Homo sapiens: one gene and its partners. The protein of the gene in region 5 interacts with the protein of the main gene of each other region in a biochemical or structural test. Each region holds a gene or a part of one and is shown on either strand. Other genes may lie near its edges. The genes, in order: APLP1, ESR2, VDR, GLI3 and MED12.

Region 1 (3,878 bases), on a different chromosome or scaffold from region 5:
CCCACAGTTCTGACTAACTTACCTTTCGCTCATACTGTTCCAGCGGGTTCATCTTCTCTTTCTCAGGGGATGCAGCATCTTGTTCTGTGGACCCTACCCCCAAGTCTGATCTCATTCTTTTTTTTTTTCTTTAGACAGAGTCTCACTCTGTCACCCAGGCTGGAGTGCAGTGGCATGATCTCAGCTCACTGCAGCCTCAACTTCCTGGGCTCCAGTGATCCTTCTACGTCAGCCTCCTGAGCAGCTGGGACTACAGACATGCCCCACCACACCCAGGTAATTTTTAAATTATTTGTAGGTACAGGGTCTCATTATGTTGCCCAGGCTGGTCTAGAACTCGTGGCCTCAAGGGATCCTCCTGCCTCAGCCTCTGAAAGTGCTAGGATTACGGGTGTGAGTCACCAGCGCCTGGCCCTATCTCATTCTTTAGGGTCCAGAGGAGGGGGCTGGAAAGTACATCAAACTCTACCCCAGGGGGTCTGAGGTTCCCAATGGATGGACCCTGTTTCCTTCTGGGTTCAGGGATTCAGTGGGATTTGGAGGCTGGGGTTAACTGTGAGACACTCACCTTTTGGAAGGGTCATGGGGGTGTCTGCTGGCAGCCAGAGGAAGCAAGGGAGTGGAACAGTGAAGAGAGGAGGGTATCAGCAAAGAAAGGTGGAGAAACATCCTTCCAGGGACTAAGAAGGAGGATTGGGGATCCTACAGAGGCCCCTGCAACCTTAGACGTTCCTCCTCATCCTCTCCCAGTCACTGTGGTGGTGAAGACACCCTCAGACTCTAGGGGATTACAAATTAGGCTGGGGCCTGTTCCCTAATGTCTGGGGTCATCTATATGTGGGCTCACTCACCATCCTTGGAATCTGGAGGCTGCAGCCCACCCTTGTCCTCGCTGCTGCCCCCAGGGGCAGGGGCTTCCAATTCACTGGGACCCAGGTGTTCAGAGTGGAGGAGTTCCTCTGAGGGGGACATGCAGAAAGGTGGCTGAGGTAGTGAGCATAGGGGTGAGTGGAGGGCACCCTACCAGTAGAGCAAGTGGGAGATCATGCAGACAGCAGAGTCAGCCCCAAGTGTGGGGTAGCCAGAAGTGTGATCTGAGAAAGTGGGAAGCTGGATGGAGGCACTGCTGGCAGGAAGGATGGAGGCTGAAGTTTCAAGATTATGTTTTTTTTTTGTTTTTTTTTTTTTGAGACAGAGTCTCACTCTTGTTGCCCAGCTGGAGTGCAATGATGCGATCTCAGCTCACTGCAACCTCCACCTCCCGGGTTCAAGCAATTCTCTTGCCTCAGCCTCCTAAGTAGCTGGGATTACAGGCAAGCGACATCATGCCCGGCTGATTTTTGTATTTTTAGTAAAGACGGGGTTTCACCATGTTGGCCAGGCTGGTCTCGAACTCCTGACCTCAAGTGATCCACCCGCCTCGGCCTCCTAAAGTGCTGGGATTATAGGCGTGAGCCACCGCGCCTCAAGATGATAGCTTTCTTAAATACTAGGAGAATCAGGGTTATGTGTGAGATATCCAGGAGAAAGACACAATAGATGTGGGGGCTGCAATAGGTCACACTTTCCGGTATGCATATAGGTTCCTTCCCTTGAATCTGGACTGAATTTGTAACTTGCTTTAACAAATAGAATGTGGGCCCAAGCCTTAAGACCTAGCAACTTCCACTGTGATGTCTTAGAGAGCATAAACCACCATGTAGGGAATCTAGCTACCCTGCTGATGAGACCACATGGAGAAGCTCCACGGAGAAGAGAGGCCTTGCGCTTCCTTGGAGAGAGAGAAAGGTCCATTTGTGCTAGACTCCCAGCCCCTAGATGATCTGCTAGCTAAATACAGCTGCATGCTTGACCACTGGCAAGACCACTGAAAGAACCACTCTGCTGAGCGCAGACCGGATGGCAGAATCATGAACAAAGAAAAATCATTGTTGATTTTCACTGCTAAGGTCTGGGCTGTTTGTTATAGAGGAATAAATGAAATTGGGGGGGCCCAACATTTAGGAGTCAAGATCTGCCCTCAGAGATCTGTAATGGGAGCCAGGGTAATAGACACTCACGGATTTGGGGCCGCAGCTCCTGAGCCAGGTGGGGGTTCTGGTCAAGCAGGCCCAGGCTCTGATTCACCCTCTCCTCAATCACTTGAAGGTGGGTATGCACCTGTGGGTGAGTGGACATGAAGGATGAACTGCGCAATGCAGGCTGGAGATGAGGAAACTGAAGCAGTATGAAGGAGGAATTCAATAGCGACTGAGGAAAAGCGGCACATGCAATGGACAGGATGTGTGGTACAAGGGTTAGGAACTGGGCCATAGGAGAAGGAAATTGAAGAATAAAGTCCAAGGAACAGAAAGTGGGGTTTGAGGGGATTCCAGAGACAGAGATTGAGGATTGGAGGGTCATATAGAAATGACATGGTTCAAGGCAAGATTTGGAGTTCAAGAGCACAGAATGGAGTTTCATAGACAGGAAGAAAACATCCAGGAAAGGGGAATTCAAATTTGAGCGCACAGAACAGGGGTTCCAGGGAAAACAAGTGAAGTTATGGAGAAAGGAGGTTGAGGGACAGGAAGAGGGTTCAAGGAACAAGAAGGAGATTCTCGACCGGGCGCGGTGGCTCATGCCTGTAATCCCAGCACTTTGGGAGGCCGAGGTAGGCAGATCACCTGAGGTCAGGAGTTTGAGACTAGCCTGGGCAACATGGCAAAACCCTGTCTCTGCTAAAAATATTAGATTGGTGCAAGTTATTGGGGTTTCTGGCCGGGCATGGTGGCTCACGCCTGTAATCCCAGCACTTTGGGAGGCCGAGGTGGGCAGATCACCTGAGGTCAGGAGTTCGAGACCAGCCTGGGCAACATGGCAAAACCCTGTCTCTGCTAAAAATATTAGATTGGTGCAAAAGTTATTGGGGTTTCTGGCTGGGCATGGTGGCTCACGCCTGTAATCCCAGCACTTTGGGAGGCCAAGGCAGGCAGATCACCTGAGGTCAGGAGTTCAAGACCAGCCTGGCCAACATGCTGAAACCCGTGTCTACCAAAAATACAAAAATTAGCTGGGGCCGGGCGTGGTGGCTCACACCTGTAATCCGAGTACTTTAGGAGGCCAAGGGTGGATCACCTGAGGTCGAGTTCAAGACCAGCCTGACCAGTATGGTGAAACCCTGTCTCTACTAAAAATACAAAAATCAGCCAGATGTGGTGACACCCGCCTGTAGTCCCAGCTACTCAGGAGGCTGAGGCAGGAGAATAGCTTGAACCCAGTAGGCGGAGGTTGCAGTGAGCCCAGATCATGTCACTGCACTCCAGCCTGGGAAACAGAGCGAGACTCTGTCAAAAAAAAAAAAAAAAATTAGCCCAGTGTGGTGGCAGGCTCCTGTAATCCCAGCTACTCGAGAGGCTGAGGCAGGAGAATTGCTTGAACCCAGGAGGTGGAAGTTGCAATGAGCCAAGATCGCACACTGCTCTCCTGCCTGGGCGACAGAGCAAGAACCTGTCTCAAAAAAAAAAAAAAAAAAAAGACGATTCTGGGAAAGGCAGTGAAAATCCAAGGGACAGAACATAGGATCGACGGCGGGGGGAGTAGGAATCCAAGGGCCAAGAAGCAGGGGTCAAAGACACAGCATGTGAGGGTCCATGTTTCAGGGTCAGGAAGCTGAGCTGAGAGACTGGGAAGGGGCAGAGAAGCGGTGTTCAGGGGATAGGAAGGGGTCCAAGAGACAGAAAGAGGGTCTAAGGGACAAGAGAAGAGCCTGAGGCGCGGGCGTCTGAGGAATAGCGGCGCATTTGGGAGCTGGAAGGATGTGAGCACCTGGAAGCGCATCTGCTGTGCCTTCTCGGGATCCACGGCGGCCACATGCTGGTAGTGGCGCAGCGTGTGCC
Region 2 (3,878 bases), on a different chromosome or scaffold from region 5:
TGCCCTTCAATTTATGCTCTAAAAAACAGAATTTTTGTATGTAAAGTGAGCACAAGGCTGGGGGTGCTGGCTGATTACAGGCAAATCTTTTTTTTTGAGATGGAGTTTCACTCTTGTTGCCTAGGCTGGAGTGCAATGGCGCCATATCAGCTCACTGCAATCTCTGCCTCCCAGGTTCAAGCAATTATCATGTCTCAGCCTCCTGAGTAGCTGGGATTACAGGCATACACCACCACACTAATTTTTGTATTTTTAGTAGAGACAGGGTTTCACCGTGTTGGCCAGGCTGGTCTCGAACTCCTGACCTCAAGTGATCTGCCTGTTTCGGCCTCCCAAAGTGCTGGGATTACAGGCATGAGCTACCATGCCCGGCCACAGTAATAGACAATTAATACAATATCTGAGGGGTAATTCATCACTTTCTTTCCCAAAACCACTCATTTCCTATTTGTGTTAATAGAAAAAGCCCATCATAGTTACCTTTGACTTCTCCCCTTGACTCAGTTAACTTTACTCATCAAGGCACATTGGCTTTTTTTCCCAATGCCTTTTTTCCACTGTCTTTTGCTGCCATCTTGAAGTAAGCTCTCATTATCGCATTACTTTTTTTTTTTTTTTTTGAGACGGAGTCTCGCACTGTCACCCAGGCTGGAGTGCAGTGGCGCAATCTCGGCTCACTGCAACCTCCACCTTCCAGGTTCAAGCGATTCTTCTGCCTCAGCATCCCGAGTAGCTGGGATTATAGGCGCCCGCCACCACGCCCAGCTAACTTTTTGTATTTTTAGTAGAGACGGCGTTTCACCATGTTGGCCAGGCTCGTCTTGAAATCCTGACCTTGTGATTTGCCCGCCTCGGCCTCCCAAAGTGCTGGGATTACAGGCGTGAGCCACTGTGCCCGGCCAGCTCTCATTACTTCTTATCAGTGCATCTGTAACAGGCTTCTTACTGCTCCTCGTCCCCAGTTAGCTTCTCCTCCAGATCCATAGAGTTGTCAGATTCATGTTCTTAAAACCCAGCTCTCTGCTTCCCACCAAACTCTAAGTCACATTCTTCGAGCATTCAAGGGATGCCACTATGTTGCCTCAACCCATCATTCCACACGAATCTCCTGCTGTTTTCTTACAGAAAACCTGCTATGTCCATTAAGAAACATGCAAACTGCATTGTGAGGTGGTTGGCTTGTTATACCTTCACACTTTTTTTGCTCATAGCACCCCTTTAATCACTTACATACAAACCTAATCCTGCTTATCAGAACTACCTTGAACCCTTCTTCAAAATGATAGAGGTGCATAGGAGAGTAAGAAGTAAAGTCAATGCCTGTAATCTCAGCACTTTGGGAGGCCGAGGTGGGTGGATCACATGAGGTCAAGAGTTTGAGGCCAGCCTGGCCAAGATGGTGAAACACCATCTTCACTAAAAATACAAAAGTTAGCCAGGCGTGGTGGTGCATGCCTGTAGTCCCAGCTACTCGAGAGGCTAAGACATGAGAATCACTGAATCTGGGAGGCGGAGGCTGCATTAAGCTGAGATCGTGCCACTGCACTCCAGCCCAGGTGACAGAGTGAGACTCTGTCTCAAAAAAAAAAAAAAAAGAAAAAGAAAAAGAAAAAAAAAAGGAAATTCAGATTTTTAGCTCCTTGAAAGCAAGTACCATTTCTTACTCACCTTGCACTGAAACTCAATCAATATTTGTCATAAGGAAGTGAGGAAATGTGTTCAAAATGTAATATTTCACCAAGTCAAGGACATTAAAGATGGGGGGTGCTGCAGTAGGCATGGTAGTATGCTGAGAAAAGGGACTTCAAGGAGTTCTGGGACATACACCCTGCCTTCAGGGAGCTAATGTACCAGGAAGAGGCAGGACAGACCAGGTAAAATGATAAGGAACTAACACCAAAGTGGTACCACTTCCAACCAACATTGTAAATCAAAAATTTGGACCAAGGAGAGGAGAGAGAATGGTAGCTGGAGAAGGATATAGGATCAAGGAAGGTTTGGTGTTTGGGTTTTATTTTAATACTATATGTAATTAATAATGAGTATGGAATTTTATATTTCATTTTTTTTTTACATGGAGTTTCGCTGTGTCACCCAGGCTGGAGTGCAGTGGTACAATCTTGGCTCACTGCAACCTCCGCCTCTTGACTTCAAGTGCTTCTCCTGCCTCAGCCTCCCTAGTAGCTGGGATTACAGGTGCCTACCACCATGCCCAGCTAATTTTTTGTACTTTTAGTAGAGATGGGGTTTCACCATGTTGACCAGCCTGGTCTTGAACTTCCGACCTCAAATGATCCACCCGCCTTGGCCTCCCAAAGTGCTGGGATTACAAGCGAGAGCCACCAGCCAGAATTTTGTATTTTAATTACTTAGATTCCTGATCAACATAAACAATTCCTTATTCTTAACAGAAAATATGCAGGATAAAACATATAGTGATAACTATTGCCAAAACTAGCAGTTTCTAAAGTGGTTTTTTGTTTTGAAATGAAATCTCACTCTGTCACCCAGGCTGGAGAGTGCAGTGGTGTGATCTCGGCTCATTGCAACCTCCACCTCCAGGGTTTGAGGCGATTCCCCTGCCTCAGCCTCACAATTAGCTGGGATTATAAGCATGCACAATTAGGCCAGGCTAATTTTTGTATTTTTAGTAGAGATGGGGTTTCACCATGTTGGCCAGGCTGGTCTTGAACTCCTGACCTCAAGTGATCTGCCCGCCTTAGCCTCCCAAAGTGCTGGGATTACAGGTGTGAGTCACCGTGCCTGGCCTGAAGTTGTTTTTTTTTTTTTCTTTTTTAATTGTGTTAAAATACATGTAACATAAAACTTACCATCTTAGCCATTTCTAAGTATAAAGTTCAGTAGTGTTAAGGATATTCACATTATTGTGCAACCAATCTCTAGAACTCATTTCATCTTGCAAAACTAAAACTCTCTGTTAAACAAATTCCCCACTCCTCCCTTCCCCCAGCCCCTGGCAACCACCAGCCTACATTCTGTCTCTATGGATGTGATGACTCTGGGTACCCAGCAGTGGTGAAACCAACTATCAGACCCCACCAACAAATGACAAATGCCAGGATACACCTAGCCAATCAATCAGGTGCATGGCAACTTTGCTTAGAAAATACAGATCTCACATCTCAACATATCACCAATCAACTTCTGTAGAATTTCCACATATCCCCAGAAGGATGATAATTAAAGTTAGAGAACTGACTTCTGGAGAGTCATTAAAAGGCTAGGTGCTTTTTGTTTGGATATATTTCAGATATATCAGATTCACATGATTCACAGATTAACTCTTTGTCAGTGGCATCTTGAATAGTTAGGTACTTGGTAGCCAATGCAAAGAGTTTTTCTTCCTAAGCAGAGCCATAATAAGGGGAAGAAATGATGAACTTACACCATTGTAATAGTTCTCTGAGACAGGAGAACAGGTAGCAAAAAAAGACCTCCTTTCTACCAGAGGTCTGTAAAAATAAGTCAACAAACCCATTCTGGTTGAGAAGCCCTCCTCTAAAACAGAGATATAAACTGGTCAAAGGAAAGACTCCCCAAAAGATTTAATTTCTTTAACATTGTAGGGCAGAGTTTTCCCAACACATCGATTGAATGTTCAAACATGGCCTCAGTACAATGTTCTGGTACAACAGGAAAAAATTGTCTCTAAAGAGTTTAATTGTTGGGCCTGGCATGGAATTTCACCTGGCCAACCAAAGAACCAGTACCCAGACATCCTGATTCTAAGAATTATTCATTTATTTGCATGTCAATTTTCTTTAGTCACCATAACCTAAAATAGTTGGTCCATATCCTGGGTGGTGAACAGGCTTTGTTTTCTGTCCAGAGACCTCTCTCTCTCTCCCAGCACACAC
Region 3 (3,878 bases), on a different chromosome or scaffold from region 5:
AAGCATTTTGCCCCTTCTGCCGTAAATACAGCTATTGCTGCTACTTGAAAGACAATAACATTGCTTGAGATTGATTTACTTCTCTTTCTCAACCATATTGTTTATGTATTTTATGGCAATATACCAAATGAACTTTGGGGAAGAATGAAGATACAAATATACATAAATATAGCCATTTCCCAACACATCTATTAAATGTGTCAATACTCTATTGTTTTAAGAATATTGGCCGGCAGTGGCTCATGCCTGTAATCCCAGCACTTTGGGAGGCCGAGACAGGCGGATCACGAGGTCAGGAGATCAAGACCATCCTGGCTAACACGGTGAAACCCTGTCTCTACTAAAAATACAAAAAAATTAGCCGGGCGTAGTGGCGGGCGCCTGTCATCCCAGCTACTCGGGAGACTGAGGCAGGAGAGTGGCGTGAACCCGGGAGGCGGAGCTTGCAGTGAGCCGAGATCATGCCACTGCACTCCAGCCTAGGCGACAGAGCGAGACTCTGCCTCAATTAAAAAAAAAAAAAAAAAGAATATTGGCCGGGCGTGGTGGTTCATGCCTGTAATCCCAGCACTTTGGGAAGCTGAGGCTGGCAGATCACCTGAGGTCAGTAGTTCAAGACCAGCCTGGCCAAGATGGTGAAACCCCAACTCTACTACTAAAAATACAAAACTAGCCAGGCGTGGTGGTGCGTGCCTGTAATTTCTGCTACTCAGGAGGCTGAGGCAGGAGAATTGCTTGAACCCAGGAGGCAGAGGTTGCAGTAAGTTGAGATCGCGTCATTGTACTCCGGCCTGGGCAACAAGAGGGAAACTCTGTCTCAAAAAAAATACAAAAAATTAGCCAGGCATGGTGGCACGCTCCTGTAGTTCCAGCTACTTGGGAGGCTGAAGCAGGAGAATTGCTTGAACCTGGAAGGCGGAGGTTGCAGTGAGCTGAGATCGCGCCATTGCACTCCAGCCTAGGTGAAAAGAGCGAAACCGTCTCAAAAAAGAAAAAAAAAATTAACACTGCATGAGTATTTAAATATAAGTATTATATACAGTACTAGTGTTAAAACAATGAAACATAGGAATAAATGAATGAAATTTATATGAATGAATTGATAAAGGAGGATCCCTTCTCCAGTAGAACTCCTTATACTTATATATTTTGGCAAAAATGTATCAGTATGGTTAGGAAATGGTCTTTATTTTTTTCTTTTTTGAGACAGGGTCTTGCTCTGTTGCCCAGGCTGGAGTGCAGTGGTGAAATCATGGATCACTGTAGCCTTGACCTCCTGGGCTCAAGTGATTCTCCTGCCTCAGCCTCCCTAGTAGGTGGGACTACAGGCATGTGCAACCACACCTGGCTAATTTATAATTTTTTTTTTTTGTAGAGAAGAGGTCTCACTATGTTGATCAGGCTGGTCTGGAACTCCTGGGCTGAAGCAATCCTCCTACCTCAGTCTCTCAAAGTGTTGGGATAGGCATGTGCCACTGTGCCCAGCCAGGAAATGGTCTTTAAATGTACATTTTGGTGAAGGATGCCAGGGTCATATATGCCAGTAAACCTATCTCTCTCCAGGATTCCTAGACTGTTTCACAAGTCTACATGGCCAAGCCCTTCTCTCTATCACTTCATTCTGCTCTCAGAGTTGGGGTGTGGAGGAATCATATCGTTGAATTTAAAGAGATAATATGAGGATTCCAGTCAAGCCAGCTGGAGTGAACACAGCAGTGAGCTGGGAGTTCTAGGCCTGGCTCTGACATGCTGGCTCCAACACCTGGAAGGGATCCTGGCTGGCCATTGGACCTCTCTGGGCTTCCACACCATCATCCAGAAAGTGCGGGGATGGACTAGCTCTCCAGTGCTGGCCTGCAGAGTAACGCAAGACAGGCTGCACTTTCTAAATACAGATTTCTGGGCCTACGCCAGAGATTCTGATTTCGCAGGTCTAGGGTAGGGTCTGAATCTCTATTTTAAAGAAGCAATGGAGGCTGGCTGCTGTGGCTCATGCCCGTAATCCCAGCACTTTGGGAGGCTGAGGTGGGTGGATCACTTGAGGTCAGGAGTTTGAGACAAGCCTGGCCAACATGGCGAAACTCCGTCTCTACTAAAAATAAAAAAATTAGGGCAGGGCGCGATGGCTCATGCCTGTAATCCCAGCACTTTGGGAGACCAAGGTGGTTGGATCACGAGGTCAGGTGATCGAGAGCAGCCTGGCCAACGTGGTGAAACCCCGTCTCTACTAAAATTATAAAAATTAGCCGGGCTTGGTGGCCCACACCTGTAATCCCAGCTACTTAGGAGGCTGAGGCAGGAGAATCACTTGAACCCGGGAGGCGGAGGTTATAGTGAGCCAAGATAGTGCCACTGCACTCCAGCCTGGGCATCAGAGCGAGAATCTGTCTGGAAAAAAAATAAAAATAAATAAATAAATAAATAAATAAATAAATTAGCCGGGCGTGGTGTCTGGTGCCTGTAATCCCAGCTACTTGGGAGGTTGAGGCAGGAGAATCGCTTGAACCTAGGAGGCGGAGGTTGCAGTGAGCCGAGATCGCGCCACTGCACTCCAGCCTGCGTGACAGAGCAAGATGCCGTTTAAAAAAATAAAAAATAAAAAAAAGAAGTGGTGGATGAGTGATCTCCAACCCTTCTTGTAGCTCAGTCTAGGACTCTGACTCTGTTCCCCAGAGATTGCAGAAGTTTCTTACCTGAATCCTGGTATCATCTTAGCAAAGCCAATGACCTTTTGGATGCTGTAACTGACCAGGTCAGCCAGGTGGGGCAGCATGGAGAGCTGGGACAGCTCTAGGGTCACAGAAGGGTCATCTGAATCTTCTTCACTCAGATCCAGATTGGAGAAGCTGGACGAGTCCATCATGTCTGGGAGAGATGAGGGAAGAGAAGGAGCTATTTAAGGATACTTGGACCAGGCCCCCTCCTGCCAGACCCTGCAAAAACCTGGTGTGCCCTGGCAGCAGAGCCAGCTGGGAATCCCACAGTGACTCCACAGGTCACCCTTCAGCCCCAGGCTTCCCTCTGGGACTCTCTCTGCCTCTTTCAGCAGCATAAGGCAGTAAAATCAAAGAGCCAGAGACACTCAGAGCAATGAGACTTCCTCAAGCAGACTGTGTGCTGTTCCTATGGATCTCAATCAAGAAAGAATTTGGGACCCATCAAGTCATGGAAAAAAATGTTCAACCTTGCTAATGGTCAAAGAACTGCAGTGTAGAACATCTATAATTTTCACCTACAAACCAGAAACAAAAATGTTTAAATATTGATGCCAGTATTTATAAAGATGCAGGAAATTAGGCAATGCCTATGAGGGCTGGGGTGCTAAAGGAGGTGCACATTACTGAAGGTACTCTAGAAAGCTATTTGACATTAGTCAAATAATTGTGTGTACTCTTTGACCAGTAGTCACACTTCCTGGAATTCATTGTAAGGGAAAATTTCCGATAAGTGTAAATATTTGGCTACAAGTATACTGTTTTCTTATTAAAATGCTGAGAAATAATCCAGATATCCAATGGTAGGGGATTAGGTACATTATTGTATTCCAGAATACTATGCAGCCCTTAAAAATTATATTCTGGATGCGTACTAACTGGTATGGAAAAACAATGCCATATAAAAAAAAGCAAGTCATCAGATTGTATACAGCACAATTTCTTTTCTAAATATACATATGTGTTTTTTTTAAAAAAAAAAAAAAAAAGAAAGGAAGGAAAGCATGATGCCTCCCAGACTCTCAGCTGAGCTGGAGGGGACAGGTCCTCCAGGGCCAGAGTGGTCCCCAGAGCTCAAGTGGAAGGTGGACCTCAATAGGACCAACACGTTCACCTTCCCACTCCAAATTTCACCTTCTGAAGGGCCCAGGATTAAAATATCAC
Region 4 (3,878 bases), on a different chromosome or scaffold from region 5:
TATTCTTATATTTTGTAATCCAGGGAAATGGTTTACTAGTACTTCTAATGCTGTTTTCGCTGCTGTTGGAGACTGTGTGAGACACTTTTGTAGACTTTATAGGGATAATGCCCTCTCGATTCAACCTCTGATCTCTAAGGATATGCTCACTACCCAGGGCCCAGGGGCCACAGCATCAAAGCTCAGGGGCACAGTCCTTCCTAAACCCCTGTGGCAGCTTCACAGCAATGCCAATACAAGTCATTTTGAGAATTCATCTTGTGTAGATTCAGGTCCCAATCCAGGGCTAGATGATAAAAGCCATATGCAGGCATTGAAGTGTAACCAGCAAGGTTGTTGCTGTCTGGCGATATGCAAGAGGAAAGATCCATTTCAGAGCCCGTGACACAATTTACTCCAGCCTCCACGTTCTTGCTGAAAAGGAAATTTGGGCAAGCAGTCTGAGGTTTGGGCTGAAGCAGCCTGATGACAGCAAGGTCCAGATTCTGTGGACATCTGGACTCTTGTCCAATCTCTATGGTGGGGAATTAGCATTCATAGAGCTCCTTCCTGCATCAGGCTGAGAGCCCTATGAGATGATATTATGGGTATAACCTACACATCCTTAAACTGAGGCCCAGAGAATTTAAGTGACTAGAGGCGGAGTCCGGATTGAAATCCTACACTCTTCCTTTCAGAATTTTAGGCTGAGTGCCAGAATCCAACTAGCCTTAGGTTAGTTATGTTTTCATCCCTTCTGGTTCGCCAGGCTCTCCTAGAAAGTGGGAAGTAGCAAAATAAGAAAAAATGATATAGGAGCCATCAGTAGATCCGCCACAGCTCAGGCTTGGGTCCAGGAGCTCAATAATTCAGGCCCAAAATCACAGATGAGGACTGAGGCCTGGTCGCACCTGTGGCCAGCAACAAATTAATGCAACCATTTCCTCTACGAACTACAGTTGCCAATACTCCCAAGCTGCCTAAACTATCAAGAAGGTATGTCCCGCATGGCTTCCTGCACTGCCTGTGTTTGCTTCTGAGCTAGAAAAATGATTTAGTCACTCCATATCTAGCCTTTTGTACAACATGTAGAGTACGGCCAAGGTCAACAATGCAGTGGACAAGGAACTGCCGTGAAAAAGACACCAGGTCTGGGGAGGAAGCGGGAGCTGACCCAAAGACACCAGTCTTGGGAGGAGTGGGCGCTGGCCTGTGCGGCCTCGGTGTCCTACCTGCTGCCCCCGAGCCCCTGGGCTGGGGAGGTCTTCATCGGGTTTGATCTTGGACCTCTTGTTGTGCATCGGGTCACCAGTGCTGCTCACTGCAGACTCACTCGTGGGCTTGTTCTGCTGGTCACATTTGCAGAGCCAGAGACAAAAAGATTTTCATCAACAAGGAGCAGTACCATAATTAAAACCTTGCCAACTCGGGACAAGCGGTCTTATTTGGCTATAAAGCAATGACTCTGATAATTCTCCAATCCCAGTGTAAGCAGAGTTCAGATAGTATGTTCAAAGCTAGAAAATACGTTCATGCGGCAGCTCTTCATTTTTAACTCGTGAGTATAAACTCCCTATGGCTTTTAAAAGCTAGAAGAATGGAGCTGAGGCCCTAGGCTTTAACAAGCTCCAACAGGGTATTTCAAAAGAACAAAGTTGTGAGGAGGGTAGAAGACCAACACGTTCCATTTGTGAAGTTCTTTAATTAGAGCAACCAGATTCTTCTCCAAACAATATCAAAGTGGCAACAGTTAACGCAGGGCAAAGCACAGTTTTAGTCTTACTCTAAAGTACCACCTGGTGGTAAGTCGCAACTGTGGTTCTAGCGGAGGGAGTGAACAGTGACCAAATGAGAGCAATGCATCCACATGCTGCACTGACATGGGATGCAGGTTACAGATGGCACCAGGTCACAGTGAAGCCTTATCAAGCAGCCTGCTGCTATGCCCATGGGAAAATGACCCTGGGGGAAAAAACTGTTTGATGAGAAGCATTTACACAACACGTCCACCAAAACTGAAGACTAGACCTCAGCATTAAGAAGACAGGATGCTAGTACAGAGGCTGTGAGAACACAGAGGTGCCGTGTTGATTAACAGCTGACGTGGTGGCCTGCCCCCACCCTCGGCTGACCAGCACGGCCGGGTGCATCGACCTGTCCCTCTCACCTGTGAGGACTCAGAAGGGCCGGAGCTGACCTGGACGGGGTTCAGAACCGTAGGGATCCCTGGAATAGGCCTCTGTGTTGGAAAAGTTGGGGCAGGGTGGATGAGTGGAGGGCTGTGTCCAAAGGCTGAACCTAAGCTCTGTTGTCGGCTTAGGATCTGCTGATGCATGTGGAGAGAGACGGGCGCGGAAGAGTAGGTGAAGCTCAAGGCAGGGCTGCACGGGGGAGATAAAAAAAGACGATCATCACTTAAACGCTGAGCTCAGACAAGTACACAAGATCTGCAGCTTTCTATCTATAATTTTACCATCCCAAATCAAATTTGTTTAAATGAGAAGGTAGGATTATTGCCAAGCATCTTGAAAACTTCTAAGAGAAAGATGAACACTGAGATGAGACACACATGTGTGTGCACACATACACGCAGACCTAAAACAAGATTCTGCAAAAACGGAAATAAAAGGCATCAGTTCAATAATAACTATTTATTGCAATAACAAACTTTATATAAAAAGAGAATGGGTGACTACATGCTTTATAGGACTTTTATTGGCTCTTAGTTCCGTATGTTCCTGTGCATGGAGCAATTCCTTTAATCTTAGCTCACACTGCACGCTTTCATATGTCTCCAGATCTTATTACAAGAGGAAAGAAAATCAATTGGTTAAATGTGTTTTGAACACCATGCTTGTCATATCACTCATTTGTTTGTAAAGATGGAAAGCTTGGTTCATCCAGAATGCCACCTAAAGAATTTCCATCAGTGCCGTCTGGTTACAGAAGCTGATGGATTAACCTCTCCCCGCTGAAATCAGTGATCAATGGGCTTCGATGGAGGAATATTCCAGTGGGAGAGCACTGCTCCCTCTTCTAGCTAAACAGCATTTAATGTCTATTAAAGCCCATTATGCATGCTAATGACTGTCACCACTTTATTATGCCACACTATTTCCCAGGCTACAGTAAGTCCTGAGGAAGCAGTGATAATACCTAAAGATTTCTCGACTAGCAGGCAATGCCAAATCATTCTTTGTGCCAGTGTGGTTCTGGAATCAAATCCTCTTAAAAGAATGGAGTGTTCTTAAGGAATTTGCCAATGGCTTAAAAATGCATGAAAAACTAATAATTGCATTCATGGAAATTTCTTTTTAAAAAAATAATCAGTGAAAAAAATATTTATATATATATATGTATGTATTTCTCCCTGTCCTGCTGTGTAATACCCAGAAAGAATCAGGGTTTCTTGTAATGTCAAAGTTAGAACTCATGCAAATTTCCAATCTGGTGGGTTAATTACTATGGCTATTAAGCGCATTAAAGGAGAATAAAATAATTACAATAGCAAAATTCAAACCATTTCAACAACTTTAAGTAATAATTCCAAAGATATACTCTGTTCATTAATGTGACTCTACATTTTGCCTATTTGACTACAATCCATAACAGGCAGCTTCAATGGGATTACATTACTATCATTCCTGCAGAGAACCTTACATTACAATAGCTTGCCCATTTAAGACTGAATATCATTAAGAATACCCTAGGAGAATTTCACCAGGCTTTGAGAAACTCTCCTTTCATTCTACATTGTATTTCCTTAATAAAGGAAAGCAGAAACGTGGTGAAAACAGTCATTGTTCACAGTAAGTTAGGGAGAAATCAGTAATAATATTCCGTTTCTGCAGCGTTATAGTTACTGCCAGTGTTTCCAAAAGCAAGCATGAATGATTATG
Region 5 (3,878 bases):
TGGTCGTGTCTTCACAGTACTCTGGGGAATTTGTTCAGTCTGCATACCTGTCCCGCCGGCTTGCCTACTTCTGTACACGGAGACTGGCCCTGCAGCTGGATGGTGTGAGCAGTCACTCATCTCATGTTATATCTGCTCAGTCAACAAGCACGCTACCCACCACCCCTGCTCCTCAGCCCCCAACTAGCAGCACACCCTCGACTCCCTTTAGTGACCTGCTTATGTGCCCTCAGCACCGGCCCCTGGTTTTTGGCCTCAGCTGTATCCTACAGGTAGGTACTAGGCGGGCCCAAGGAAGCATTGAGAGATAGCCTGAGAAGAATCAGGTGCCCATCCCAGAGAATAGGGGTAATTCCAAATTGGATGTGGGAGTAGGTGCTGAGTACTTGCTTGGAGGTTGTTGTTTCTTGGTAATGGGGTGTTAGTCCCCTTTGGGGGTTTTCACCAGCCTCTCTCTCCCTTCCAAGGCTAAATAGTGGGCCCAAAGCCTTTTAGGAAAGTGAGTGAAGGGAGGGGATCGGGGTGGAGTGATGCCTGTCTTGGGGACCCAGTCAGAATAACTTTGGATCTGGAATCTACGGGTTGGGTCTTAGAATGGGATTCCAGAGGGGTAACCATGGTGAATGAGTTGGACTTAGCTGTTTCTATCTGGTAGACCATCCTCCTGTGCTGTCCTAGTGCCTTGGTTTGGCACTACTCACTGACTGATAGCAGAATTAAGACCGGCTCACCACTTGACCACTTGCCTATTGCCCCGTCCAACCTGCCCATGCCAGAGGGTAACAGTGCCTTCACTCAGCAGGTATGTCTGACCACTAGCCTGGTACTCTCAGATTGGGCTATGAGGCTAAATTACTCTTTCAGAAGTAGTGATTTGGAGTCTAGTACTATTCTTCTAGCCTGGGGCTCTGGCCTTTTATATGCCTTGGTACATCCTTGTAGCCTTCCTTTTTAACATTGCAGGTCCGTGCAAAGTTGCGGGAGATCGAGCAGCAGATCAAGGAGCGGGGACAGGCAGTTGAAGTTCGCTGGTCTTTCGATAAATGCCAGGAAGCTACTGCAGGTATGTGTCAGAGAACAGATAATAGGAAATATGTTTGAGGAAAGGATGGGGATAGTAAGGACATGTAGATCTAAGAGCCAGAATGCACCGGGCCTCTGGTTCAGTCCCCTTTACCACTTTTCCTCCTTAGGCTTCACCATTGGACGGGTACTTCATACTTTGGAAGTGCTGGACAGCCATAGTTTTGAACGCTCTGACTTCAGCAACTCTCTTGACTCCCTTTGTAACCGAATCTTTGGATTGGGACCTAGCAAGGATGGGCATGAGGTAAGCGAAAAGGGGAATAGAAGGAGCAAAAAACATTGCAAGAGCAATAATATGTCTGAGAGGGAAGTCATGGTGAGGCATTGAAAGCAGAGCATATCTGCAGAAATGATCTTACTGGGCCCAGGATGTTTTATGATAGAGCCCAGTCTTTAGGAAATTGGAACTCATTTCTTTGTCCCCACCCCTACCTTACTCCTCCTTCTCTTCCTTTGTTCTCCAGATCTCCTCAGATGATGATGCTGTGGTGTCATTGCTATGTGAATGGGCTGTCAGCTGCAAGCGTTCTGGTCGGCATCGTGCTATGGTGGTAGCCAAGCTCCTGGAGAAGAGACAGGCGGAGATTGAGGCTGAGGTTAGAGGGCAGAGATAAGAGAACAAGATTGGCCAATGGGAAGGAATTTACTGCGGTTGGAGACCGAGAGATGGAGGTGGTGGAGGGACCAGAGTTGAAGGTGTGAGAACAGAGTAAAGAAGCAAAAGAGAACCTAAAGGCAAAGTTACGGACGTGAGGCGAAAGTAGAGAAGAGTGGATTGTAGTAAGAGTTAGAGATAACATCAAGGCTTCAGTTGGGAGGTGGTAAAGAACATGGAGGTCAGCAGGGGAATGAAAGTGAAAAGCATGGGGTAGAGGTCAAGCAGGTGGTAGTTTAAGGCCTACACATTGAGGAGTGAAGAAGCAGGTAAAAGTCAGTTCTACAATTTGTTCTGTCATCTTGCAGCGTTGTGGAGAATCAGAAGCCGCAGATGAGAAGGGTTCCATCGCCTCTGGCTCCCTTTCTGCTCCCAGTGCTCCCATTTTCCAGGATGTCCTCCTGCAGTTTCTGGATACACAGGCTCCCATGCTGAGTACGGACCCCTACCACTCTCTAGTTACCTCTGCCTAGACTCAGTTACCCACCACTGTCATCAGAAAGCATAATTAACAGCCCTCTGGTCTATATTTCTCTCTTGGGCTCTATGCAGAATGACTTTTAGATGTAGTTCTAGTGATCCTCTTTAACTGGTCATCTTACAGTTAAACAGAGTAGAGAAATACAGAGAAGGATAAAAACAAGAGCTTGTGATTGAAGCATTTTCACTGCATAAATCGCAACAAAGATGTTACATTCCTTTCTGAGATGATGTGTGGGACAGCATGTGGGGTAACCAACCACACTTTGTCCCTCAACAATTTCTGGGATTTCTATTTGATCACTCTTATTATTGCCTTAGGTGTGTCCCTCTCTCTTTTGGCCCACCTTTTTGTGTTCTCCTAACTTATGTTTCCTCATTCCCTTCCTCCAGCGGACCCTCGAAGTGAGAGTGAGCGGGTGGAATTCTTTAACTTAGTACTGCTGTTCTGTGAACTGATTCGACATGATGTTTTCTCCCACAACATGTATACTTGCACTCTCATCTCCCGAGGGGACCTTGCCTTTGGAGCCCCTGGTCCCCGGCCTCCCTCTCCCTTTGATGATCCTGCCGATGACCCAGAGCACAAGGAGGCTGAAGGCAGCAGCAGCAGCAAGCTGGAAGTGAGTGGGCTTTTCCTTGCACTAGATCGTTTCTTCTGACATTTCCATCTTCATGGCTCCCAGGGGCCTCTAAGAGCCTCTTTTGCCTGGGGGAGGGGGGTAGTATTTTTCTTAGCACTTGGTGATTGACCAAGCACTCTCACATCAATTGTTTCATTGGTTCCTCCCATCAGCCTTGTGAGGTACTCTTATCCCCATTTTCAAACTGAAGAAAACAGAGGCCTATACTGGTTAAGTGATTGGATGAGGCTTGACTCCAGATCCTGTGCTTTCCCCAATCTGGTCTTCTCTCTCCACTTCCCCAATGAAGTTTTACAGATGGTGGGAGCCACTCCCTAGGGCTAAAGCAACTTCGCTTATGTTCTATGCCCTCAGGATCCAGGGCTCTCAGAATCTATGGACATTGACCCTAGTTCCAGTGTTCTCTTTGAGGACATGGAGAAGCCTGATTTCTCAGTAAGTTCAATCCTGAGCGTGGCAGAATCTGGATCCTTGGATCTTCCCATTATGCCTGCTTTTGGCATGTTTTTTTGCCCCCTCATCCACTTTCCTTCTTCTCATGTTCTGCTTTCTCACCTTTCTCTCAGTTGTTCTCCCCTACTATGCCCTGTGAGGGGAAGGGCAGTCCATCCCCTGAGAAGCCAGATGTCGAGAAGGAGGTGAAGCCCCCACCCAAGGAGAAGATTGAAGGGACCCTTGGGGTTCTTTACGACCAGCCACGACACGTGCAGTACGCCACCCATTTTCCCATCCCCCAGGTACTATTCCCCAGCACCTTGTGATGATCTGTTTTGAACCCAGATTGCTGTCAAAGGAATTTGCTGAGGGGTTGGAGCTGTTCTGAGGATGTGGGTTGGGAAAGGGAAGGGCTTTAGCATGTGGATGCTGAGGGGTGTGGAGCATGCTTTCAAGAGGAGGGAAGGAGATCGGTGCTGGAGTCTGATGGTGCTGCTGGGATGCAGGAGGAGTCATGCAGCCATGAGTGCAACCAGCGGTTGGTCGTACTGTTTGGGGTGGGAAAGCAGCGAGATGAT

Evidence for each region.
Region 1: the proteins of MED12 (region 5) and APLP1 form a complex in vitro, tested with the Homo sapiens proteins (one study listed by IntAct).
Region 2: the proteins of MED12 (region 5) and ESR2 form a complex in vitro, tested with the Homo sapiens proteins (one study listed by BioGRID).
Region 3: the proteins of MED12 (region 5) and VDR form a complex in vitro, tested with the Homo sapiens proteins (one study listed by BioGRID).
Region 4: the proteins of MED12 (region 5) and GLI3 form a complex in vitro, tested with the Homo sapiens proteins (one study listed by BioGRID).

Annotation. Positions count from the first base shown.
Region 1 is NC_000019.10:35,874,799-35,878,676, reverse strand, and holds part of APLP1 (amyloid beta precursor like protein 1 isoform 1 precursor), read right to left. Parts: coding exon 3,808-3,878; intron 2,161-3,807; coding exon 2,061-2,160; intron 960-2,060; coding exon 852-959; intron 596-851; coding exon 569-595; intron 94-568; coding exon 23-93; intron 1-22. UniProt on the Homo sapiens protein: May play a role in postsynaptic function. The C-terminal gamma-secretase processed fragment, ALID1, activates transcription activation through APBB1 (Fe65) binding. Couples to JIP signal transduction through C-terminal binding.
Region 2 is NC_000014.9:64,284,248-64,288,125, forward strand, and holds part of ESR2 (estrogen receptor beta), read right to left. Parts: intron 1-3,878.
Region 3 is NC_000012.12:47,852,937-47,856,814, forward strand, and holds part of VDR (vitamin D3 receptor), read right to left. Parts: intron 2,866-3,878; coding exon 2,694-2,865; intron 1-2,693.
Region 4 is NC_000007.14:42,024,053-42,027,930, forward strand, and holds part of GLI3 (transcriptional activator GLI3), read right to left. Parts: intron 2,361-3,878; coding exon 2,147-2,360; intron 1,326-2,146; coding exon 1,212-1,325; intron 1-1,211. UniProt on the Homo sapiens protein: Has a dual function as a transcriptional activator and a repressor of the sonic hedgehog (Shh) pathway, and plays a role in limb development.
Region 5 is NC_000023.11:71,121,545-71,125,422, forward strand, and holds part of MED12 (mediator of RNA polymerase II transcription subunit 12), read left to right. Parts: intron 1-17; coding exon 18-272; intron 273-655; coding exon 656-802; intron 803-963; coding exon 964-1,063; intron 1,064-1,193; coding exon 1,194-1,330; intron 1,331-1,550; coding exon 1,551-1,682; intron 1,683-2,049; coding exon 2,050-2,176; intron 2,177-2,614; coding exon 2,615-2,844; intron 2,845-3,219; coding exon 3,220-3,300; intron 3,301-3,431; coding exon 3,432-3,602; intron 3,603-3,806; coding exon 3,807-3,878. UniProt on the Homo sapiens protein: Component of the Mediator complex, a coactivator involved in the regulated transcription of nearly all RNA polymerase II-dependent genes.